Linked DNA regions of Homo sapiens. The protein of the gene in region 1 purifies or fractionates together with the protein of each later gene. This does not show direct contact. Each region holds a gene or a part of one and is shown in the gene's direction. Other genes may lie near its edges.

Region 1 (3,500 bases):
CTTCTGAATTTAAATCATTAGTCTCCGTGAGTCTTATTCTGGAATTTCCATAAGAGTATTTATATGGTTTGTATTCCTGGCTAAGATTCAGCAAGACTTTAGGGGAGAAAGTGTCTGTATATGATATAATGAAATATCTTGTAGTTTCACCAAGTTTACACGCTCTAAGCCCACGGTGTCTAGAAAATGCTTTGAGCTAGTTTATAAACCCATGAACTGGATTTACTGCAGCTAGTTCAAACAACTTCAGGCTGTGGGTTTGAGATAGCAGAGGACCTGTGGCTTTATGGGACCTTTTTTTTTTTTTTTTTTTTTTTTGTAAACAGTGCGTCTGATGTGGAAGTTGCTTCTAGGCCTGATATAAGAAAAATAAAACTTTTAAATAGTGAATGTAAATGCAGTGTGAATAGAAGAAACAGAATGGATAATGATAATCGGTTCATTTTTGGGGCCTGAGGATAACTTTTCAGCACAATAACTTACAGTTGTAGTAGTCAAGCCATAATTTAAGTCTCCCAGCCCATTACGTAGGTGAGATTGGCATGGTCCAACTAGCACATTCATAAATAGCACCAAGCCACTGCCAAGCCTTATTCCAACTTCCCAGAACCTGAGAAGAAGTTGAACTTCTTAGAACTCAGATATTTGCTTTCTTTGAAATTATTTTTGAGAGCATGGCTTCAGAAGCTATTTAAGAAGTATTAAATACAGTTTACCTTAGACTCTTACCTGTGCCGTAAATTTCAGCAGTGTTTAGTCACAAAATGTTGCTAGTTTAAATGTCCTGAGAGCTGAATGGTAGCCCATTGGGATTGGGATTAGGATTAGGAAGGCAGGCCTAGAGGAAGAACAAACCCTGATTTTTGTTCTCAGTGTGGAGTGAAGATGACAGAGCATTCTAAAGCAAGGATATTCACAAAAGTGTATACCAAGTGTGGTTATCCTAAGCCACATTAAGATGAGTTTATTGATTTTGATCTCTTTGTACTATGTGTTTGCAATACCAGATCAGTTAGCTTAAATCTAACCTTGCCAGTTTTGGCAAAGAAGTGGTACTTATGATTACCTTAGAAAATAAACACCAACTGTGGTTGCCATTGTGGTTGGGAAGCAAAGAGGGCCTTTGTCTTTCAAATTTTACAGCTGTGCTGGAAGGCCCAGGTGTGCAGGGTGTTGTGAATTAAGGGTTTGGAAAATACTTTCCATCCTGTTTATGCAAATTAAGTTTAAAGTGCAGATCACCAAATTGTTCTGGAACCTAAACTGAGATTCATGTTTTTTTTTTAAAGTAGATTGTTGTATGGATGGTCCTGAAATATTTCCTTCTCCATATCACTTAAACTCAACAGACTTTGAAACAAAAGTCTTCCGATTTGTGGGACAGGGAAGAACCTGGGTTGTTTGGAATAGGGAGCATTTTAAACACAGGTTAATTGCCAAGAATACAGTCTGAAAGGTGCAAGTGCTCTTAGAGTTTCAGGGAACTTTAGCTTGAGCTCAGAGTCCTTTTCTTTTGCAACAAGTGTCTTCCCTCTTGTTGGGGGATAACTTGTCTGTTGATAGCTCTCTGACAACTTTTTTTGAGTAAGGTGAGATTTCTGGCAAATAATATTGGTTGTCGTGAGAAAAAGGCACACTGTTTAAGTCTTGCTGATATGAAATTGTGGCCGTAATATCTATTCTTTGAGTACTGCTAAAGTAGGAAGTGTCCAGAGATTCCCAGCGCCCCATGTAAATTAACTGTGTATTGGCACACAATGTCCCTCTTGCCTTTAGGACATGTCAGAACTGTTCCTGCCCCGCTTTTCAAGGGACTGTTTTAAAAAGTAGTGTATTGTCTCTTTGCATAATTATATTTGGTTACTAGATTTTACAGACTTTGGACTTTTGAACATATTATCAGCAGTAATTCTCGGAACCATCTTCAGAAAGATGAAGAAAAATTAAGTGTAGTGTGATGAGAGCTGGTTCCTAGTGGATGTCCTCATGTCCCATCTCCCCAGCTCTGCACCGTTAGCTGAAAGCTTTCCTCCCTCCAGTGTTAATTACTTTGCCTGGGTTCTCCCTGCAGCTTCCCTGAGTCCATTGGGACGGCCTCTGGCTGACCTTTCTCTCCCTCAGACACCATGATCACAATGAAAGGGCCTCTCCCGCTTCTGCAGGGGTGTCTCCTTGGTGCAAAGTCTTCAGCCTCCTCTCTTTCAGGGTGGACAGGAATGCAGGAGAGAGCACTGGGGTTTTGTGTGACTTAACAATGCACCTGGCCCAGTGCTGTGCACCTGCTAAAGCCCTGAAGGTCTGTTAGATAGGAAGGCTGGGTGGAGGTTGTTTAAAATAGCCTATAGTTATTTAAAAAGTGGCATGCACAGGAGAGGGAAATCTAGAAGAGGGATTCATTGAATTGAAAGTTGTTATATGCAGTAAAGGATGTTGGTTGTATCAGAGTCTTTCTTTCTTCTTTTCCTCGTTTGTTTAAAACATAAAAGGGATTCCTCTGACCTACCCCATAGGTAGAAGGACTTTAAGTTTCACGAGCAAGCCTAACTTTCAATTCCTTTTGAATGAGCTATGTGACATTTACTCACTGGGTACGTTCCCCCTCCTCAGTGACTGCAATTTGAAACCCTGGGGGTCTTTTAAAAGCGAACAGAACTCTGGGCCGTGTTAATATTCAGAGCTGTTTACAATGGATGCAGTTTCAAAGGCTGATGGCATTGTCTTGAGACAGGAGGGAGGACGGGTGGAGGAAAAATTCCCAGGCAGGGAAGGGCAAATATCTAAAAATCTCCAGTGTTTACCAGCCTGTGGGAAATTTAGGGACCGTTACTGTTATTTTTTATGACTTAAGCATGACACTGAGCCACTAGGGTTCATTCTATCTACCTCATGGCTTCAGTTCTTGTATGTCAGTTATGTGGTTATCTTGTGCTTTTGTTTCAAGTTAAAGTGTGGAAATTGGTAAGAAACTCAGATCTTATCTCCTCTGGAAAGAAATAGAGCACTTTGAAGACCAGTGGTTAACATTTTTATAATAGTTTACCTCTGGGACCTGCATTTATGTTTTGCTCAAAGAATTTGATATAGCTGCACAGTTTAGAAGAGCAGTCCCGACTGACCAATTAATTGTCCAATTATGACTAGGACTGAGAAGTTTTTTGCTGAAATACTTGATACATGACCATTCTTATTAAGCAAAATGAATGGATCAATAAAGATTGCAGAAAAAATTTGCAGTTTATTGATGGTCTAATTTCTAGTTGAAAGTCGGCAATTTGTGTCTCTTTTTTGTAGGGGGTGGTGGGTATGCTTGTGAACTTTTCTTATACAAAGGCTTTTTGCTTTATATGTTCTTATATTCTTATATTTTGTATAATTTGTTATCAATGGTTTTTACCTAAGTACTTTATGCATAGTCTTTTGAAACACAAGTTATAACTTCAATCTGTTCATAGAAGTCCTTCAGTTTTTTAAGCTGTTTCTCCATTTCACTGGGTTTTATA
Region 2 (3,500 bases), on another chromosome or scaffold:
ACTCAGATTGTTTGAAGAAGGACATTGCAACTTTCCCTGAAATCAATGGCAGGGCCATTTTGGCAAGCCAGCTCCTTTCTGATGGGCTGTCATTTGGCTGGGGAAGCCTGGTTGCTTGCTCAGCCCCTTCACCAGGTTAAGTGCTAGCACAAGATAGCAGTTACTTTTCAGAAAAGGCTAAAATTCTTTTAACATTTAAAAAACACATAATGACATATATTGATTTTATATTTACAGAAATATATGGTTTTAGGTCATAAATTATATTTCGTCTGCTTTTCTAAGAGAATGCTACACAGGCTTTTGTAAGTGAAAATTATGATCATCTTCTAAACATGACTTTATTTTGTTTGATGTCCATTTTAGAGCTGATGTTTTTGGAAACAAGTGCGCTCACAGGGGAGAATGTAGAAGAGGCTTTTGTACAGTGTGCAAGAAAAATACTTAACAAAATCGAATCAGGTAAAAGCCTTTCCATTAAGCAACTTTTCTTCTGCATATTTTACACTGTAGCTCAGTAGATCACCTTTTAATTAATAGTTTCAGGGTGATTTAGTAAAGAATGTTCTCTCTCTACCTGCCAACCTAAAATCATCACATATGGGTTCAAAGGTCCTGTTCTTATCAGGATGAAAGCCCCATCCTTATCAGGATGGTTTCCATGGTGATGAAAGTGGATGGGCACACCAGCTCAGCTGTGGAAAGGTAGTCAAGGTTTCAGGGAGTGTTTGCATTTAGAACCATAGTCTTTCTTTGGTCCTTCACTAAACGGAGGAAGAATAGGCCTTTGTCCACTCTGTCAACAGCACGCTAATTCTGTTGGGCCAGTGGTCATGTGTAAGGGAGTTATAGGTACATGGTATAGTGTTGATTGTTGCAGATCGGGCATCATGGAACTATGGAGTCCAGAGTAATTTTATTTCTGAAGCTTACTGAGCATGCCTCAATTATAAAATGCCTCATTTTTGTATTTGCTTATTAAAATAATTTAAAATAATCCTAATGTAGGCAGCTGACGAAATACTGTGTAGTTGTCATTTACTAAAGTAACTATATATGGGCATCACCTTTTAATTGATTCATTCAAACATCTGAGTGCCTATTTGTCAGATGCTGGGATACAAAAATGAATAAATCACACCCCTTGCCCCCCAAGAAACTGTCTTTCATGGGAGACAGTCAGAGGATAATTATAATATCACAAGGCTGATGTAGTAGCTGAGAGATGCACAGGCTCAGGGTAACGTGAAGAAGGGGACCTGCCCCAGCCAGAGGATAGAGGAGGTGTCAGGGAGGGCTTTCAGGGGAGGTCTTAGATGAGCTCAGTCTTTCAGAATATAAGGAAGAGTGAGCCAGCAAAGGGAGTGAGGAAGAGGGAATAGCAGGAGAAAAGGTTGAAGAAAGGCAGGAGCCAGCCAGTCCTCATCAAGGATCTAGAACTTTATCTTGTAGATTACCAATTGTCAACCCTGGATGAGCACTAGAGACACTGAGATGCATTAAAAGTTCTAATCCCAGGCTCTGCCTCTGGAGACGCTGAACTAATTGGGCTGAAGTATGGTCGAGGCACCAGTGTTTTTAAATGTTTACTCATGCTGTTCTAATGTTCATCCAAGATTGAGAACCACTGCTGTAGGTGGTGGGTTGTCAGCAGGTGGGTGATGTGATTGGGTTGTGACTTGAGATAAGTCATGTATGTAGGAGGTTATGTTGAAAACAAACTGAAGGGAGGACAGGCCTGGAGGCCAGGATACCAATTATAAGGCATTTTTGAGTAATCCTAGTAAGAGATGACTGATTAATGCTTTAACAAGGATATGGAAGCAGAGATGGAGAGAGAGATGGATCTAAGATATATTTAGGCAGTAGCATCTTATGACTCATATGCCCAATAGTGGGACAGGACAACTGACTCTTAGGTGGGACAAGGTGAGGAGGAAGGGCCAGCAGGGGAGGAGGAACCAAGGATGACTCGCAGCTGTCACACTGGTGTCTCTAGACAGAGATGGGGTGGAGCCAGAGGAGAAGCAGGGAATGTGAGGGAGTAAAGATGGCTCTGTTGCAAATGTGCGGCCTTTGCGGTAACGCTGAGACATGAACATGGAGTTATCTAGTAAGCTTGGGGAAGAGTTCCTGGCTGGCAGTATAAGTTTGGGAACCATCAATATATAGGAACAGCTAAAACTGTGGAAGCAATGTGATCGTCCGGAGAACAGTGTTTAAGGAGAGCAGTGATCAACAGAACCCTGGAGTTGGAGGATGAGCAGAGGAAGAGGAATCTACAAAAAAGATGAAAAAGGAAATGGTCGGAAATGTGTGAAGAAAATCAAGGGAATGTGGGTGTCACTTAAGCCCTAATTATAAGCAAATCAAAGGAGTGTTCATTATGTAATGTAATAGTAACAGAGGGAAGCCTCATAAGCTAAGACTGAGCTGAAAAACACACATTGGGATGGGGAATAGAAAGTCAGTGATCATTTTGATCAAGAACAATTTCAGCAGAATTATGAAGGTAGAAGATGGCTGGCCGTCCGTTAGGAAGAAGTAGGAGGTGAGCAAGCAGAGTGTCCACTCCTCTCCTGAGGAAGCACAGGCTGGCACTGTAGGGTGCAAAGGGTTAATTTAAAGCTGGGGTTGTGGGTGATGGGAGAAATTCCAGCATGTTTAAATGCTGAGGGGGAAGGAGAGAAGAATGGGCAAGGAGAGGGCAGGGAAGAAGGAGGGTGCTAGGTGAAGTAGGAGGGAGGAGAGTCGGGCCCAGGTAGAAGGGCTGGGTTTCAACAGAAGTGGACATGTCATCTTTTTGTATTTTTTTTTATCAGAAAGAAAAAAAAATTACTAAGCTTGGTACAAAAACCAAGACACTGTTACATAAATCCTTACAGTTGGCTTACTGTTGAGTATTATTAAGCTCAGCATGAGGTTGTATTTACATGACCTTGCTATTTTAATATTGTATCCCTGAATGCATCAGATAGAACAACTCATATGCAGTCTTCCAAGATGTGTTTTTTTCTGAGATCATCAAAATCATAAGTACCTCTAGGTGAAAAAAATATAAGAGTATAAATTAGGATTCTTCAGCAGTACTTTTTATTTTTTTAATGGGTAATACATTCAGAAACCATTGTTTTCTTCCCTTTTTTTATATAAAATGTATCATATGATAGACTACCACGCCTTGCTTTTTTACTTACTATTGTATAACCTACAAATCATTACAAATCAGCTTATAGTTTCCGTATATACATATAATACATAAGGTACATATATATAACATAATGTCATACATAATGTGTGTGTGTAATGTGTAATATGGGTTGAGTATCCCTAATCCAAAATGTTCCAAAATCTGAAACTTTTTAATTGCCAACATTGCCACTGAAAGGAAATGCTCATTGGAGCACTTCAAATTTCAGATTTTCAGATTAGGGATGCTGAACTGGTAAGTATAATGGAAATATTTCAAAATCTGAAAAAATCCAAAATACTTCTGGTTT
Region 3 (4,234 bases), on another chromosome or scaffold:
GGTGGGGCTGGGGGGGAGTGTACTTCCAGAAAAACCAGTAAAAGAAGGAAGGAAGCAGAAGAGGGAAAGGAAAAATGCTGAGCAGGAACAGTCTCAGCCCAGCCTTGGCCTGACCCACAGTGGAAGAGCTGTGGGGCATAAACCACACTGCAGAGCTGAACTGGCCTTTTGGACCTTTTATCAGTCATTGGCTTGGGAGGTGAAGGAAATTCCCAGGTAGGGAGCTCCGTTCTTCCTGCAAGGGGATCTGAGTGGGACACCAAATCAGCATCTACACCCAGGACAGACAGCCAGCGTGGACTTGCATGATCCGCCATCGCACAGGAGGGAAAGGTAATGATTAAAACACAATGTGCCATCCTGGGAAGAGGGCCAGACCTGGAAGTCAATCTTCAGCGTTTGAGATATGGTGGAGATCAGGGTGGACGACCTCTGAGGTCTCTAGCCAGGACCAGTCACATAATTTGCACAGCCCCGTGCAAAATGAAAACACAAGAACCCCTATTAGAAAATCATTTCAAGACGGCAACAGCAAAGTACTAAACCAAGTACAGGATTCTGAGCATGCGGCCCGTTGTGACTGCATGGGCTGTTCACCCATGAAACCAGCTCTGTCTCTGGCAGAGGGGACTGCAGGCTTTGGAACCAAGGAACTCCAGCCTGGGAGCCAGGCACAGCCCGAGGCTGTGCTGAAGGCAGAGAAGGAAATGTGACCCAGGAACTGCATGCCACAGACCAAGACAGTGAGGGCTGGAGCACAAAGAGGGAGTGGGTTAGTGAGCCTGGAAGGAATGTGGCTCTTCCCACAGAGCCTCTGGAGTCTTGTACATCAAGTACCCATCTAATAAGCAAACTCATTGAATATACCGTGTGTGTGTGTGTGTGTGTGTGTGTGTGTGTGTGTGTGTGTGAGAGAGAGAGAGAGAGGCTAAAATAGAAGAAAGCTGCAAAGTGCTGGAGGGCAGGAGTCAAGAGGAGAAAGAGGCCCATTCTGCGCATTCTTGCTGGAGAGAGGCTTTGCAAAGGGACCTGCCTGGGAACCAAGAACTGGGAAGGGGGCCAGGGTGAGGATTCTGAAGTTTGCCCTAGGGGTAGGAGCATATTTTAGGGGTCGAGCGACACACCCCTGGGCTTCCAGAAGTCGGATGGGGCTAAACGTGGAGAGCAACAAGCAGGGAGACGCGACGAATACCAGGCCGAGGGATCTCCAAACGCAGCCAACTCCTCCCGGGGACACAGACCCCGCGGGGGCACGGTCTCGATGGAGGGGAGTGTGCTCCGCGGTATCGGAGCCTACAGCCGCCAGCGCCTCGCCCACTCGGGGGCCGCGCTCCCCTCGCCACCGAGCTGGACCCGCCTCCTGAGGGTGCGCGGAGGTGCGCCTCGGTGCGCAGCTGCGGAGGATCGCTTCCGGGGGGCGGGTCAGCGGAAGTGAGGGCGGTTGAGGCTGGGCGGCCCAAGGTGGAAGGAGGGGCCGTGAGGTGAGAGAGTCCGGGAGCCCGAGCTTGAGGTGAGAAAGGTTCTAGGGAGGCGCGGAGGCGGGAGCGCGACCTTCCAGCCCGTTAGTAGACTGGGTCTACGTGCCGGGCGCTGTGCGGAGCCCGCAGCTCCTGTTCCCGCGCGAGTTCTCGCGGGAGCCGCAGCTGTCCGTCTCACTTGGCCCGGGGGAAACTGAGTCCCCGAAGGGTAGTTGCTCGTCGGAGTTCCCCAGCAAACAGTGACCAAGCCAGACCTCAGGCTTCTAGTTTCGGCTTCGCTGCTTGACGGGCCGGGCTGCCCCGCCGCGCATTCTGAGACCTGGCCGCGGCTCGGAGGCTTCCGCGCACTCGGGTCCGGGTCCTGTGGGTCCAAGGGCCGCTGGGCAGGCGGCGAGCACTTGGCCGACCTTGGCCCAGGTCGGGTCGTCTGCCGCGGGGGAGGGGCGACTCGCCCTGGCGGGTCCCCGCGGGGAGAGGGTCCGCGCGGGTCTCCGGCCACTGCTGCGCGCGGCAAAGTTTCACTGAGCGCGGCGGCCTCCGTGGGGGCCCCCGGGACCAGGGGTGCTGAGCAGGGCCCTGCGCTGGAGGAGCTCCCGTTCTCCTGAGGGGACGCCTGTCAGCAGACAGCAACTGCAGCCTCCGGAGGGCTGCGGGGCGCAGAGGTGACAAGACCCACCGGTGCTGCCGGCGAACCGGGGGAAGATCTTCTAGCCAGTGACACTTGGGGGCGGGGGTGACAGCTGAGTTGGTGTTCCCCTTCATTCGTTTAGTTCAGCGCGTTGAAGCGCTCACTGTGTCCTAGGCAGACACCGTGCTGTGCGCGGGGATCACAGTTATCTAGTTCCTCTCGCGAGGACTCCGAGGGACAGGCAGGGTGCTGCGGAGCGCACAGGAAAGGACCTGACCCTGTCGCAGGGAAGGAAGGTGATGCTTAAGCTGAGCTCTGAGGAATGATGAAGAATGAGCTCGGCGAAGGGGGTGCTGGTGTTTGATGCAGGGCTCAGAGGTGGGCCCAGTGTTGGGGGTTGAGGGCCAGTGTGGCTGGAGGGCAAGGGGGAGAGCAGGAGGGCTGGCTGCGAAGCGTGCAGGCCTTGGTGCTCAGTGAATGTGGTCTAGAGACGGCAGAGAAAGATGGGTTTGGGACTGATTGTGGATTTTATCCTGTGTTGGCTCTAGTAAGCCAGTTTTAAACGGATGAGCGATGTGATTAACTGTGTTTGGGAAGGATTCCTCTGGCTGTGTGTGAGGGTTAGGCCCGGCTGGGTCTTTGGAGGTAAGGTCGGAGAGGAAGTGGCAGTAAGCACCGTTAGTGCAATTTGTGGCCGACACGGACATTCAGCACAGAGCCTGGCACACAGAGGGACTCTGATAATAAAGGCTTGAACTGAGCCGAGAAGATGGAGCCCACGCAGGAGGTGGCAGGACCTGGACCAGGCTTTGGGTGCTTTGCACTGGCATGACCACTGAGTGACCTTAGACAAGTGCCTTCCCCTGTCCAACTTCCTTTCCCCATGTGTATCGTGAAGTGAATGACACCTCGTCTCCCAAGGGTAGAAGAGGGGACCCTCCACAGGAGGTCTCCAGAAAGAGCTGCTTTGTCAGTCTAGTCTATCTCCCATTCAGAGCCTGTCCAGGGCTCCCCAGTGACCCGGACCTCATGACTTGCCCCCTACTTTTGTAGCTTTATCATGCTCTGCTCCTCTTTCCATGTCCTTCACCTTCTTGTGCTGGACCTGTGCTCTTGCTGTTTTGTCTTCATTTCCTACTCCCTCGCAACTTACTACAGGGCACTAGGGCCAGAGCTCTGACCTCATCTGGCCACCTGCCTAATGCTACTCAGCCTTTGCTAGAAGTATGTATTCATGTCCTATCACTCTGCTGGACAGCGAGTTCCTTGAGAGCATGACTGTGTCTTACTCCTTCCATAGCCCCTACGGTGCCCAGCACAAGGCCTGGCACAAGTGGGTACTGTTGGTGTTTGATGAACAAGTGAATGAACGAGCACACTGATTGCATCTGCTCACCATGCAAGGACTGCTGTGAAGAGCAGTCAGATGTCACCTCACCCATCTGTGTCATGTTTTAACAGTTCATTAAGCACTCAACCCCATTTCACTCATTGACCCTTAAGGTAGCCTCCAGTGGCAGCTTTTCCTGTCTCCTTTTTCCAGATGGAAAAACCAACATTCAGAAAAGTTAAATAACTTGCCTGTAGCTACAAAGCCAGAAGGTGGCTGAGCCAGGATAAACTTTTTTGGCTCTTTTTCTCTGTAGCTCATGAGACTGAGATTGGCATGAGCTGGTGTTCGTTCTCCTATTTTCTCTGATCTCTCCCTTTGCAAGGGCCCAGCAGTGCTTTTACATCTCATCTTCAAGAATGAATCCTGGGCTTGGATAGTACTTATAATTTGGCTAGATGAGCTTTGTAGCTACCAAGGATTCTATTTGCATCTTTAGAAGTTTTGCCTCAAGAAACCTGAGAGCCCAGGAAGGCTCTTGGGTTGGCCAAGCTCACTAGGCAAATCTTTTTTTTTTTTTTTTTTTTTTGAGACGGAGTCTCGCTCTGTCACCCAGGTTGGAGTGCAGTGGCGTGATCTCGGCTCACTGCAAGCTCTGCCTCCTGGGTTCACGCCATTCTCCTGCCTCAGCCTCCCAAGTAGCTGGTACTACAGGTGCCCGCCACCACACCTGGCTAATTTTTTGTATTTTTAGTAGAGACAGGGCTTCACTGTGTTAGCCAGGATGGTCTCGCTCTC
Region 4 (3,500 bases), on another chromosome or scaffold:
GTAGCTCATGCCTGTAATCCCAGCACTTTGGGAGGCCTAGGCAGGGTGATCGCTTGAGCCTAGGAGTTCAAGATGAGTCTGAGCAACAAGTGAAACCCTGTCTCTACAAAAAAATACAAAAATTAGCTGGGGGTGATGGTGTGTGCCTGTAGTCCCAGCTACTTGGGAGGCGAAGGTGGGAGGATCGATTGAGCCTAGGAGCTTGAGGCTGCAGTGAGCTCTGATAGCATCACTGTACTCTAGGCTGGATGACAGAACAAGACCCTGCCTCAAACAAAACAAAATAAAACTAACCAACCAACCAAAAAAATACCTCTTTTCTTTAATATGTGTGTGTATAGTCTTTAATAGTCTAGTCTGTTTTGGATAACAATGCCATAATTATAGATAGATAGATAGATAGATAGATAGATAGATAGATATATGTATATACACACATACACATATATTTACATATACTAATATATAAATGTGTTATATGTTAAAAATATATAAATTATATGTTAAATATGTAAAATAGGACATTCTTTTTAGAGTAGTTTTGTCTACAATAAAAAGTTATGGAGTAGATAGGGGAAGCCTGTTACTCCTCCTCCAACCCCACCTTATTGATGTATCAATGAACTCTACATGTGTCATATGGAAGCTTATTCCAGACATTGTATCAGCATCGTCACACTGCTGCTTGGTTTGATGATAGCCATTTTTGAATGGACCCAGGACCTTTGGAGCTGTGTGGTCTGTGGCAAATTTTTTGTCAACAAGTCCTTGACCATCTTAAAGTTTAAATTGTTTAACAACACCTAGAAGATTTACATTGCCTTAGACATTGCTTGAATTACACTAGACATCAATAATGCTCTTTCAATAGCTATGCATGTCAGTATTCTCCTCTTCATTATTTTTCCGCATTTATTCCTGATTGCATAAGCACATAGGCACAAAGCACTTTTCACAAGTTGTATGATTTGACTTTTGTTCTTCAGAATTGATTTGGTTGTTGAATGACTTATACTCCAAGTGTTCTTAGAACATAAATTACTTCCTTACCATTTCCATTTTTTGGTTATTTTTTGTAAATCATTATTTTTTGTTTCCACTGTTATTATAGGCCTCTATTACAGGTTGAGTGTGCCTTATTTGAAATGCTTAGGACCAGAAGTGTTTTGGGTTTGGGATTTTTTTTAGATTTTGTAATATTTGCAGAATACATACCAGTTGAGCATCTCTAAGCCAAAAATCTAAAATCTTATATGCTCCAATTACCTTTTCCTTTGAACATCACATTGGTGCTCAATAAGTTTTGGATTTTGGAGCATTCAGGATTTTTAGATTAGGGATGCTCAACCTGTAGTACTTTAACTATTTTGATACTGTCCTTGTTTTTGGCACTTATTAAGATGATGGGGTTGAAAATATATGTGAAACACCTGAAAACCGAACAAGAGCACTGGCATTCCTTAGACTAAAGAGGATGGGACTAGTCTATGAAAGTTTTTGGTTGAAAGTGTGTAAATATATGTGTCTGTGCATTGCTTGTAGTTTTACCATAGTTATCACATCCCACTTTGTATTTGTTATTGTGAACTTATTTTGCATTGCACAACTTATATCTAGTACATCATATCTTCTTTGTATATCTTTTAATCATCACAGTACTGATGTGAATAATTTGCAAATAATATATTTTTAGGAGCATATCGAGTGAATATTGAACCATTTTAGATGGTTATGTTAGAAAAATTTAGATGTAGTTGTGTTTAATTTCATTATATCTTCAAAATGACTGGAAAATAATATATAACTTATAAAAACAAATATGAAGGCCTTTAAATAATTTGCAGAGAATAATTTCAAATGCTTGGCTCAGTCAAAACTTTGTTCTCTCTTCATAAAATCGCTAATATAATGTTTAAATATTTCCTGTAGTTAATCATTGTTGGTTATTAGAACTTAAACAGATTTTGTCTTTCAGCTCCTGAATTCAGACCACAGATCCACAGCCACAGTCCAGATATGTAGCGGTTCTGTAAACCTTAAGGGTGCTGTGAAATGCAGAGCTTATATCCACAGCAGTAAACCCAAAGTTAAAGATGCTGTGCAGGTACAAAAAGGAATAACGAGCATATGGAACCATGTTAACTATTAACAAAAACCTAAAATTTTACCATTTTTTAATCTTATATTTTGTAATTATTAATTCGATTTTAACTGATAATGGCCTATTGTGCAGTCCAAATGTACCATATAATTGGTGTGAAGATTTTCATATGTAGAGTATCTATTTTGTGCCTTTTTAAAAATGATGGCTATACAAGTTTAGTAAGTGTTCCACTGTTATACATATTAGTATCTAATTTGGAACACTGCAATTATTTTTTTAGATGTGAAATTTTATTCATTTATCTGTTTTTAACTATTTAGATAAATTTATCATTAAACTATAAATTTGTTAATAAGTGTGCTAAATAAGTGGAAATAAAACATTGAATGATGTATCAGTTATTTAGTGGGCATGATTGTACTGGAAAGCAAATTATTTTTTTTGTTAGTTAAATATTGTAAATCTAAAGTATTTTATTTCTTACTGTGTTTTTTGTGTGTTTTTCCCTGTAGGCAGTAAAGAGGGATATATTGAACACAGTTGCTGATCGTTGTGAAATGCTATTTGAGGATCTGCTTTTGAATGAAATTCCAGAAAAAAAAGTTATGAGTATAAAATAAGTACTTTTTTGCGTATCTTCAACTGATATAGTAATAAGATATCAAGATATAGCAGATACGTCATCTTTTATAGCTACCTATCTATATTTTCAAGCAGTATATCATCTTTTATTATTGGATGAAAATTTTTCAGTTGCTACTCAGATTTTTTTTTTTTTTTTTAGACAGAGTCTCACTGTGTTGCCCAGGCTGGGGTGCAGTGGCACAGTCATGGCTCACCTGCAGCCTCAGCCTCTTGGGCTCAAGCAGTCCTCCTACCTCAGCCTCCCTAGTAGGTGGGCCTGCAGGCACATGCCATGATGCCTTGCTAATTTTTGGTATTGTTTTTTTAGAGACAGGGTTTTGCCATGTTGCCCAGGCTAGTTTCAAACTCCTGAACTCAAGTGATCCACTGTCTTTGGCTTCCCGAAGTGCTGGGATTACAGGTGTGAGCCACCATGCTTGGCTCTAGAAAAACGTTTTAGAACACTATCAAATTTAGCAAATTTGTCAACAATTAAGAATTTCAGGGAGGATTTTTAAAAAAATTAATTCCAAGTGAACTTCTCCTGCCAGAATGAGTAAACTTTGTTAACATTTTAAAGTTAGTATTTTTTGTTGATATCTATGAGTATTTTAAATAATTTAGCCATAATCAAAATATTATTAGTGTTAAATACTATATAATAGCTCCTTTAGTAGGTACTATTTATATAAACTACACTAGTTTATATGCTTCTCAGCTATTACTCTAACAGACTTCATTACGTTTAAAAAAGGCTGAGTTACAGTATCTT
Region 5 (3,500 bases), on another chromosome or scaffold:
ACTGTAATAACTGAGTTTAGCATTTCAATGTTACTCTATGAACTTTCATTAAACTAGTAATTTTCCTTATTTTTAAATAGAACATATGTACTAGTTTATTAAATAATATTGAATATCTCCTTATTATTACTTTGAATATTGAATACCCCCTTATTGTATCAGTTGTGGGCAAACAATTACAAATTTATTTTCTGTTTTTCATCAGCTTTTTGCTGTGTCCGACAGAGAAACCTCATGCCTTACATGTCAAATAAAACCCAACTTAAATTAGGCAAACAAGCAAGTAATAACCGATTGATTATATTTTTTGGAAGTTTATTTAACTTACTATTCTTTAAAAAACGTTTTCTTTAGGCACTCGAAGACTCCAGCTTCCTGAAAAGAAGTGGCAGGGACAGTGGCTACGGTGACATCTGGTGTCCTGAACGTGGAGAATTTCTTGCTCCTCCAAGGCACCATAAGAGAGAAGATTCCTTTGAAAGCTTGGACTCTTTGGGCTCGAGGTCATTGACAAGCTGCTCCTCTGATATCACGTTGAGAGGGGGGCGTGAAGGTGTGTTGTGTTTTGGCTGTCAGTTTATTTGTTCACATATTAAGGGAGAACTGGGAACAGGAGAGAATAGAAAAATGGAGCAAAAACTAGGCAAAAATTTCACTTAGAAGTGGATTTTCATAGAGACTGGAGTATAATTGGGGGTTTTGTTATTTTTTTCTCCTTCATGATGGTGATAGTTTCATTTTTGAAAAATTTCATTTCTGGAAAGGACTGAGAGGTGACAGTTAATTGTGGCCTGTTTTATCAGTGATAATCTATCCTGGCTCTTCTCTCTCCAGATTCAGGCTTAATTTGTGTTCAAGAGTTCTATAAACTGATATATCTAAACATAGAAAGGAATATAAGATTCTGCAAAAAAAAAAAAAAATCTTCTAGTTTCTGAGTAACTTTCATCCTTGGCTTTTTTCAAAAGATTAAAAAAACTCTCTTAAGCAAAAAAAGAAAAATATTTTTACAATTATTTCTATAGATGAGAAGAAATGATTGCTATCTATCATGATAGAATATTATGTTAAACTTTGTAGATTGAGTAATATACCACCACCTAACATGCAGGTAGAAATCCTCTTTTGGTCCTTTCAGAGTCAGAGCTAACCCAGGACAGAGCAAGTGTGAAAGGAACATGTTAGAGACATTCTGTTGCGGGAAGGAACCTTCTTTCAAAATCCCAAGCTTATGGTCAGTTCAGTTATTTCAATGCACATCTTATTCCTGTGGCTACTGGGTATAGCGTCAGCAATTTCTGAGTGTACATCTCCAGCTATTCAGATTTGACTAGATTGAAACCACAAGTGAAGTTTTTTTTTTGAAATATTTCTGTGCTTCTATCGACATCAATGTGAAAACATTGAGTTCTGGCTGTGATTTGTGCTTAATTGTTAGGGATTTTACATTGCTTGTGTATTTGGAATATTACTTTTCTATTTCTAGATATTTTTCCTAGCATATCTATGACAAAAATGTCAAAAATCAGCAAACTTAAAATAATTGTACAGCGAACACACATGTATTCGCTGCCTAATTCCACCATGATGTTTTACTATGCATGCTTTATCTTATACTCATCTCTCTCTCCTCTCTCTCTCTTTCTCTTTCTCCCTCCCTCCTTTCTCTATTATAATTTAGTCATCTTATTTTTTGAGGCATTTCAGAATATATCACACTTGTCCTAAATACTTCAGTATGAACATCATTAACTAGAATTTATTCTTTGTTTTACTTCTGATGTGAAACTTATATAAATACAACATGCTATGAATTTGTTTTCCAAAAAACCAATCAACAATTTATTAAGCATGGTAACAAAAAACCTGAAGGCTTTATCTTTTAGAGTAGTAGTTTTTAAAAATAAAAAATGTGAAACGCTATTTCAGCATTAACCTTTATAATTACTGCCACACGTATTGGCTGTTTGCTGTCAAGGTGTGACATTTTCATAGCCCAGATGACGATTCCAATACGTTTAAGGAAATGAATCTGAGTATGTGATTCATCTGAGTGGTTAAAGCTGTAAAAGCAGAGGCTGAAATTCTGAACCCGCTGTATTTCTTTTCCCTTACTGAAGAACCTACTCCATGTAATGACAGAATTTATATCTAGTCAAGGAATAAAAGGGGAAGGGATAGAGGGCATGTGGGAATATGCAGGCTTCAGTCAGTTCAGATGCAGTGGCCCACCCAGCGGTGTGGAATCTAAGTCGTCTTCTCAGATCCTTGTTGGAATGGGCACCTGTCCATGTAACCAAAAGCAGAAGGCCACTGTCACATCCCTTTCTGATCTTGGAAATGGGGCTGCAGACCTTGTTTAAAGAGTGCGTAAGTGAAGTCTTGGAAATTACAACTAAGCGGGGAAAAAAAGCCTGGGATGGAGGCACCAGGCCGATAAAGCTCTTTTGTGATCAGTGTGTTAAAATTCTACTGCTACTCTCTAGATTGTAGTCCTAAATTGATGAGCACTATAATGTAGGGTAATATTTTTAGGATAACAGAATTGCAATGTCACATTCTCTAGTTTTACGTGAAAACTCATATCAAGAATGATACTTTGGGGGAAAAAATTCTCTGCAGGACACCGTACTGGGCTAAAAAATACTTTTTCTTAAAAGTTAGAAAGTAAAATAGTCTCTTTATGACTTTAAAATTCCACATGTATGGATTTCGGCAGGAGTAATTGATATACTTATTGGAAATGAGAAATAAATGTCTGATTTTTTAGAAGGTGGTAAAAAGAAAGCACCAGTTTATTGACTACTACTCCTCATGGTCACAGCTGCGTTTACTTTCCCTCTTTTGCCAAGACTCTACTCTCCTTTTACTCTGTCCCTGTCTCATAGCTGTATGTTAAGCGACTTCCTGTAGACTGTTCTCAGTGTTATTTACTGTAGCTTCCTGCCAGGCAGGAGGGAGGGGAAGAGACTGCATTTAACTCAGGTTAACCCTGCAGGTGCTCTACCTGCTGAGAGCTTGTAGCTGTCAGGCACTGTGCACAGCCAGGCCTGGAGAGAACCCTGGTGAGAAGCAAGTAACATTTCCAAACCTTTACAAGTGCACAGGAGGCAGGAAGAGAAGGGTGTGAAAGAGGGACAGCTTGGCTTGGATCTGTAGTGTTGTTCTCCCCCCTTTTCTTCCTTTGTCTTTAAAAGAGTAGATTCATTCTTCTTCTTTTAAGAAAGCAGATTACTATTTGTATCTATCTGACCTTGAGGAGTATCAAAGGGTGTTCTTTTGAATTTGTGTTTAAATGATTTTGAATCATAATACAGCGTTCCCAATATAATTTCCATGGCCACTCTGAAGAAACTGTGAGTTCTGTGCTCTCATTTGGGCATAAGACTTCAGATTCCTTTGGAACTTTAGAAGTCATCCAGTCCAGCCTCATATCTAATGTGTGATTCTGGTTTATAGAATCTATCCAGACCCTTTACAAGCTTGTTTTTTTTTTTCTT
Region 6 (3,500 bases), on another chromosome or scaffold:
CATGTTACTTTATCAGCAAATTCATTCCGTTTTTGATTGTATATAGTTGCTTCTTTTTTTACTGATACAAAATATTTTATATATTTCTGGGGTACATGGGCTAATTTTTGCATTTTTGGTAGAGATGGGGTTTTGCCATGTTGCCCAGGCAGGTCTCGAACTCCTGGCCTCATGTGATCCACCTACCCCGGCCTCCCAAAGTGTTGGGCGTGAGCCACCGCACCCTGCCGAATTCATAAGTTTTAAATTGCATGTCATTCTGAGCAGAGATTCGCACCATTGGATTCTTTCTGCCCAGGAGGTGGGTCACCCCTCTGTCTAGCGTATCCACGCTGAAAGCCCTCCCTGCCCCAAGACACTTAGTAGAAGTCTGAGTTATCAGATCCAGTGTTGGAGTTTCATAGTGCTCGTGTTCGAATCATGCTTATTTGATTTAATAATGGTCCCAAAGCACAAGAGCTGTAATGCTGACATATTGTTATATAATCATAATCTTTTATTATTAGTTGTTGTTAATCTCTTACTGTGTCTAATTTATAAATTAACTTTGTCATAGGTATGTATATTATAGGAAAAAACAGAGAACTACTATAGATGGTTTTTTTCCTTCCTACACCCAAAAGATTTTTCCCCCTAGCGTTCTGAAATTTTACAGTGACATACACTGTCGTGGTCTTCTTTTGGTTTACTGCAGTGGGTACTCAGTGGTTCTTTTGAATCTATATCATGTCTTTCAGTTTGGTAAATTTTATTTTCTTTATCTGCTCGTTACTCACTTCGTAGCTGTTTCGGTTATCAGACTGAAAAAGCATAGTATCAATATATAGAATTTGGTATTATCTGTAGTTTCAGGCATCCACTAGGGGTCTTAGAACGTATCCCCTGCAGATAAGGGAGTACTACTGCTGTTGTAAAAATAGTCATCTTTTCTATATTTTGCTTTTTTAAAAAAACATTTGAGTCCATTTAAGATTTGATCATTTATAAAGGAACTGGAGTATTTCCAGCAGTGTGAAGGAGAGAAACAAATTTCACTCTCCTGCTTTGCAAATTGAAGGTGATGATGGTGTTTTCCTTAGTGGTTTTCCTGTTATTTTAAAAACCGTCTTCTTCACCTGTTCCTACTCCTTTCTTTCCCCCTTGTTCTTCTAAGTCAGCATGACATAAAACTTAACGTGTAATTCATGAAGTCATCTGCAAGCATCACCAATGTTTGATTTTGAAAACAATTCCATATACAGAAATAATTACTAATAGTATCCTGAGATCAAAACCATGTACTTTATCCAGCTGACTGGCTTCTAAGGCATCTGAATGAAAACTACCATGTATATTAATGTGGGCAAAGGAACGATTTACCTGACTTTAAAGAAATGGGTTCAGGGAGCACAAAGAAAGGCCATTCATTAGGTGGAGCCTGCCACAGAGCCCACATTATCCTTGGAATCAAAGGGGTTGATAAGGCTGTGCAATTGGAAAATCAGTAGGCATTAAGGGAGAGAAAGTAGATTGTTTTAGAAACTTGGTGCTACTTCTACCATGCCTACTATCAGTGAGTTCGACTATCATCTTTTCTTCCTTCTTACTGTTGCTTTTTTTCTGTCCCATAGTTCTTCTAATTTACATGAAATGTTGGCACTTCATAAATATTACCCACCTATAAAATGTTTTTTTCCACATAGCAAACCAATCACTGCGAGTTGATGTCTTTTCTTTGTTAGTGTAGCATTTCACGTGAGTGTTCACAGCCACTTCTTCACCAAGGAAGACCCAATCATCCCCTAACCTAGTTTCAAATCCAGGCTGTTCTAAAAACTAAACGATGCTAGAAAACTGGTCTCAGAATAGTGAAGGTTTCTTATGTTCATCACAGAGTCAGTTTCCTAATGGGATTCAAATGATAGACCAAATATAAAAATATAGTTAGCAGATGTCTCTAGATAGACAAATATATGCCAAAATATATATTCTGGAGACTCAATTTACAGTATTTTCTTTTTTTAACATTACTTTCCATGCTGTTTTAAAAACACAGTAGGCTTTGACATTTGCAGACTTGACATACATATTTTCAATTAATTACGTCCATTTAAGTTAGGAGGACTTCGAGAACGCTCAGTAGGAGTGAATCATTAAGCTGATAAGTGATTCAAGCCAGCCACTCAGCCTTTACGGGTAGATTATATGCTTTTTTGATTCAATAATTTGGGTTTTTCCATAGATGTTCAGAACTACCTCTTGTGAATGTTCTCCTTCTATCCTAATTCTGACATCTTTTCATTAATTTTATCAATAAAGAAGTATATGGCAATTAATTTCATAACAACACACATAAACTTATTGCATACTGTTACATGTAAATTATACATATCAAGGACAAAATTTACAGACTCCAAAGGAGGAAAGAAACATTTTTATATTGTCGATAACCTAACCAGCTTATCTAGATTGGTGCAATATATGTAAAAAATTAACTCAGCAACTAGGAAAAAATGATTATTGGTTGATGGGTGGCAAAACTTTAAATGGTGATTTAGGTTTGTTTGCTTACCCTTGAGATTGAAATAACTGATAGGCTAGCAATTTAAAGAAGGGGACATACGGAGTTTGAATTATGAAAGCTAAGTCTTAGCAGCAGAGGAATGAACGTGTGAGTGCAAATTATCCAGGAAAGCCAGTAGTAGAGCACCTTGCCCACGACTTGCTTTGCTGACACTCACCTTAGCTCTTGTTAAGTATGAAATTAACACTGTTCTGAGTCAGGAGGTTGTAAGGCTGGAGGTTACAAGGATGCGTTTTTGTTTGCTTGTTTTAATTTTTTGTTTAAAGAAAATCAAAAATTGAAATGCTTATTTTTCAATGCACTGTGAGTGGCCTGGGTTGTATTTTCAGATTTGTAATGGCAGTAAAACTCACCATTTTAAAATACCCATCTCTGAGGCCAGGCGCAGTGGCTCACACCTGTTATCCCAGCAGTTTGGAAGGCTGAGGCAGGAGGATTGCTTGAGCTCAGGAGTTGGAGACCAGCCAGGGCAACACAGTGAGACACTGTCTCTATTATTAAAAAAAAATTAAAAAATAAAAAATAAAATACAATAGCCATCTGTTGTAGAAATTTCTCAGCTTTTGGAAACTAGTAAATATTTACTTGTCTGAAAAATGGCAGAATTCATAGTTCAAAAATTTTGAGCATTTGTAGCAAAATAAAAGGGATTCTGAACAATATTTTTCCAGTCTGATTGTTGTTTTCTTTTTTTTTCTCCCTTCCACTAGGTGTCACTCTGCAAACCTGAATGGTGTATACTACAGCGGCCCCTACACGGCTAAAACAGACAATGGGATTGTCTGGTACACCTGGCATGGGTGGTGGTATTCTCTGAAATCTGTGGTTATGAAAATTAGGCCAAATGATTTTATTCCAAATGTAATTTAATTGCTGCTGTTGGGCTTTCGTTTCTGCAATTCAGCTTTGTTTAAAGTGATTTGAAAAATACTCATTC
Region 7 (3,500 bases), on another chromosome or scaffold:
CTCAAAACCACTCTACTTTCTGCCTCAAATTTCAAGACCGAGATTTCCAGATGCCTTTCAGTAAGCCAGGCTAACCGCCCTCTCTGGTTTCCCTTTCTTGCTCCAACTGCCTCCCCTCGATGTGAGTGCAAAACAAAAATATTTTAATGTGCATGGTCTTTTTTTCTTTAAAAAATGGAGGTTATAAAAGTAACTAGAAATAGAGATTCACTGTAACAGAGCATAGTCTCAGATCCCTTGCCCTCTGCCTTAGCTTCAAAAAAAGTATCTGTTTCCCCTGCTACCACCATGGGATAAGCTGTAAAATATTCCTGATCTGTGGTAAGTTCCGCCTCATTTATATGCTATCCAGAAAAACAGTCAAGGTTGTGGAATAGCAATCAGAACTGAAGTGAAACAGTATTGGAACCCCAATATGTGGCATGTATTTGTACTTAAGATTCTTCGGTTTTCTGTACTTTAAAATAAAAGCAGACCATAAATGAGGTGAACATGAAATGGAATCTATAGTGAAGTGGCCCAAGCAGGCCAACTACCTTTTAAGGAGGCCCTCAAAGATAGCATTTATAGAAGCCCTAACTCATAGATCCCATCAGAACATTTAAGAGACCTCTTCCTTCATTGGACTCTGGTTATTAAATGATGATCTTTTGAGGTAATTCTGAACGTGTCGTTTTGTTACAGTCTTTGATTGGGGTATATATAGCATGTTTTTTGTTCATTCTGGCTTTTATAGGTAGACGGGAAAGTCAGTGTGAATGGAGAGACGGTTCATAGAGAGGAGGAGAAGGAAAGAGAGTGTCCCACGGTGGCACCTGCCCACTCCTTAACCAAATCCCAGATGTTTGAAGGTGTGGCCAGAGTGCACGGGTCTCCACTGGAGCTGAAACAAGACAACGGTAGCATCGAGATCAACATAAAGAAGCCAAACTCTGTTCCCCAAGAGCTCGCAGTAAGAACCAAACATTTCCCCGCCTCCCTTTGGGATAATTCCATGGTGAAAGAATCTGTTTTTAAAAATAAGTAGGTCATGATAATGACCATTTCTTTCTATGTTGGCGTATTAGTTTGCTAGGGCTGCTGTAAGTACCACAAACTCAGTGGCTTAAACAACAGAAACTGTCTCACAGTCCTGGTAGCTAGAAGTCCAAAACCAAGGTGTTGGCAGGGTTGGCTCCCTCCATTGGTCATGAGAGAGCATCTGTTCCAGGTCTCTCTCCTAGCCTCTGGTGGCTGCTGGCAATCTTGATGTTCCTGGGCTTATGGATGTGTCATCCCCCTCTCTGCCTTTGTCTTCACTGGTGTTCTCCCTGTGGATGTGTCTGTATTCAGATTTCCCTATTTTATTTTATTTTATTTTATTTTTCGAGATGGAAATTCGCTCTTTTTGCCTAGGCTGGAGTGTAATGGTGCGATCTTGGCTCACTGCAACCTCTGCCTCCAGGCTTCAAGCAATTCTCCTGCCTCATCCTCCCAAGTAACTGGGACTACAGGCATGCACAAGTGCACCCAGCTAATTTTGTATTTTTAGTAGAGACAGGTTTCACCATGTTGGCCAGGCTGGTCTTGAGCTCCTGACCTCAAGTGATCCACCCACCTCAGCCTCCCAAAAGTGCTGGGATTACAGGCATGAGCTACCACACCCAGCCTAATTTCCCCTTTTTAGAAGAACACCAGTCATACTGAGTAGGTCCACCCTTCTCCCTTGTGACCTCATCTTAACTAATCACATCTGCAGCAGCCCTATTTCCAAAGGTCACTTTCTGAGTAGTAAGGGTTAGGACTTCAATAATATGAATTTTGGGAGACACAATTCAACCTGTATCATTGGTATAATGGAAGGTATTACAATTTATGAGCCAGAAATTACTTTTTCTTGTCTCACTATTGGTGTCCAGTGTTATAGAAGAATAAGTAAATCTTTAAAATACCTTTTCCCCCCCTGTTTATTTAGGACCTCATTAGACTTGTTAATGCCATTTGAAAATAACTGGTGCTATCAGAATCTAGCTTTCCATCCCCGGCGATGTATATATAAAAGGGCCTTTTTCTTATTAGTTAAAGAAACAAAAATTCATTTAAAAGCTGAAAGTAATGTAAAGCATCAGAGTACTATTGAATGGCAAAGCTAAAAAATGTATGCTAATTCAGGTACTGCAGAAAAGTGAACTCAAAATAACATGATATTTGTTTCTTTGGAGTAGAAGACATCATTGGGAAAATTGCACTTTCTTCCATCTCTCACCAGAAAGACTCATGCTGGTTTCACTAATCTAACCGAAACTGTCACTACACAGATGCAGCCCTGCTTTCGGGGTACGGGCTGGACTCTGTTCAACCTCATTTGTACTCACCAGAGGCTGAGTTTCTGCTGTTCTAATTTATAGCATTTGGGTTTATATTATAGTTACAAGAAGGGAAAAACTATCAAGATATTTTCCCCCAGGACCTAGAAAGGTTTGGTGTGAAAGGAAACTTCTTCCGGCACCAAGGGAGCTGAGCGTTGTGTGACCCAGCTAGCTAAAACCCACCTAGAAGGCTGGATATCATTATTTTTTTCCTTTATGATTAGTCTTTTGAAGACTAAAATTATTTTTTTTTTCAGAGGAGTTGAGAAGATATAATTCTTCCACGCAGTACCCAAGTGCTCTGTGAAAGAGATTCAAATGGGAGTAGACCAAAATCATTTTCTCACCATGGTAACACGTTTCCTAGTCTCTAGGAGCAGAGTTTTGTGATCCAGGCCACTGCGGAGTCTCTCCTGAACTTGGACTTCCTGGACTTCCATTTTACTTGTCATTTGCATACGTCTTACCTCTGCTAGAGATTTCTTGCAGATGATCACGAGACAGAATATTGAGTTCTGCTAGCAGTGTGAGAACTTAACTGATAGAGTAAACATTAACTTATGCTGTTAAAATTAAACTAGAAGACCCCAAATTAATTAGACATAGGGGTGGCATTGCTTTTCAGGGACAATTAATAATTCTGTTCTTATTTCTCTTTTGCCATTTTTCATGATGATCGTTTTCTAAATTCCCTTCATTAAAAAGATTTCACATTGATTACATATCCCCCAAAGTAACTTGTTTTAAGAGAAGCAAAATTACACGATCTGAAAGAAACTATGCTATTTCAAAAGTTTATACATGATCACATGGAGAAGGATGGCCTTCAGGACTTTCTTCCTAGAAACCAGCCTGATCCTGGTTGCCTAAGGATGCAGGTCTAAACTCAGAAAAGCCTGGGAGTCTTTTCCTTTTGTGTATTTCTTCCTTGGAGAAATTGCCTAGTTCAGAGTAATTTCTAGGTCAGTGAACCCTAATGTTTCTGAACAGGTAGTAGTATTTATGGACCCTGTCTATAGTACTTTAGGCTTTTGAATCAACTATGGCAGGGGGTATTGCATTACTTTCTGTGTGGGAAAATCTCTGTATATATCTGTCAGACTATAAGCTAAGTTGTTAGCTGTACTACATAGGACTGTGGCTCATTACTCA

Evidence for each region.
Region 2: the proteins of LRIG1 (region 1) and RAB4A purify together in Homo sapiens (affinity purification with mass spectrometry; 2 studies listed by BioGRID and IntAct, with this or other methods). This does not show direct contact.
Region 3: the proteins of LRIG1 (region 1) and MTFR1L purify together in Homo sapiens (affinity purification with mass spectrometry; 2 studies listed by BioGRID and IntAct, with this or other methods). This does not show direct contact.
Region 4: the proteins of LRIG1 (region 1) and ODR4 purify together in Homo sapiens (affinity purification with mass spectrometry; one large-scale study listed by BioGRID and IntAct). This does not show direct contact.
Region 5: the proteins of LRIG1 (region 1) and LMO7 purify together in Homo sapiens (co-immunoprecipitation; one study listed by IntAct). This does not show direct contact.
Region 6: the proteins of LRIG1 (region 1) and FGL1 purify together in Homo sapiens (co-immunoprecipitation; one large-scale study listed by IntAct). This does not show direct contact.
Region 7: the proteins of LRIG1 (region 1) and LIMCH1 purify together in Homo sapiens (co-immunoprecipitation; one study listed by IntAct). This does not show direct contact.

What each region holds. Positions count from the first base shown.
Region 1 is NC_000003.12:66,494,523-66,498,022, reverse strand, and holds part of LRIG1 (leucine-rich repeats and immunoglobulin-like domains protein 1 isoform 1 precursor), read left to right. Parts: intron 1-3,500. UniProt on the Homo sapiens protein: Acts as a feedback negative regulator of signaling by receptor tyrosine kinases, through a mechanism that involves enhancement of receptor ubiquitination and accelerated intracellular degradation.
Region 2 is NC_000001.11:229,298,611-229,302,110, forward strand, and holds part of RAB4A (ras-related protein Rab-4A), read left to right. Parts: intron 1-366; coding exon 367-462; intron 463-3,500. UniProt on the Homo sapiens protein: The small GTPases Rab are key regulators of intracellular membrane trafficking, from the formation of transport vesicles to their fusion with membranes.
Region 3 is NC_000001.11:25,818,520-25,822,753, forward strand, and holds the start of MTFR1L (mitochondrial fission regulator 1-like), read left to right. Parts: upstream 1-1,434; 5' UTR 1,435-1,510; exon of another isoform or gene 1,511-4,234. UniProt on the Homo sapiens protein: Mitochondrial protein required for adaptation of miochondrial dynamics to metabolic changes. Regulates mitochondrial morphology at steady state and mediates AMPK-dependent stress-induced mitochondrial fragmentation via the control of OPA1 levels.
Region 4 is NC_000001.11:186,396,338-186,399,837, forward strand, and holds part of ODR4 (protein odr-4 homolog), read left to right. Parts: intron 1-1,961; coding exon of another isoform or gene 1,962-1,975; coding exon 1,976-2,104; intron 2,105-2,616; coding exon 2,617-2,707; intron 2,708-3,500. UniProt on the Homo sapiens protein: May play a role in the trafficking of a subset of G-protein coupled receptors.
Region 5 is NC_000013.11:75,800,330-75,803,829, forward strand, and holds part of LMO7 (LIM domain only protein 7), read left to right. Parts: intron 1-354; coding exon 355-553; intron 554-3,500.
Region 6 is NC_000008.11:17,864,525-17,868,024, reverse strand, and holds part of FGL1 (fibrinogen-like protein 1 precursor), read left to right. Parts: intron 1-3,273; coding exon 3,274-3,433; 3' UTR 3,434-3,500. UniProt on the Homo sapiens protein: Immune suppressive molecule that inhibits antigen-specific T-cell activation by acting as a major ligand of LAG3. Responsible for LAG3 T-cell inhibitory function. Binds LAG3 independently from MHC class II (MHC-II).
Region 7 is NC_000004.12:41,649,657-41,653,156, forward strand, and holds part of LIMCH1 (LIM and calponin homology domains-containing protein 1), read left to right. Parts: intron 1-736; coding exon 737-952; intron 953-3,500.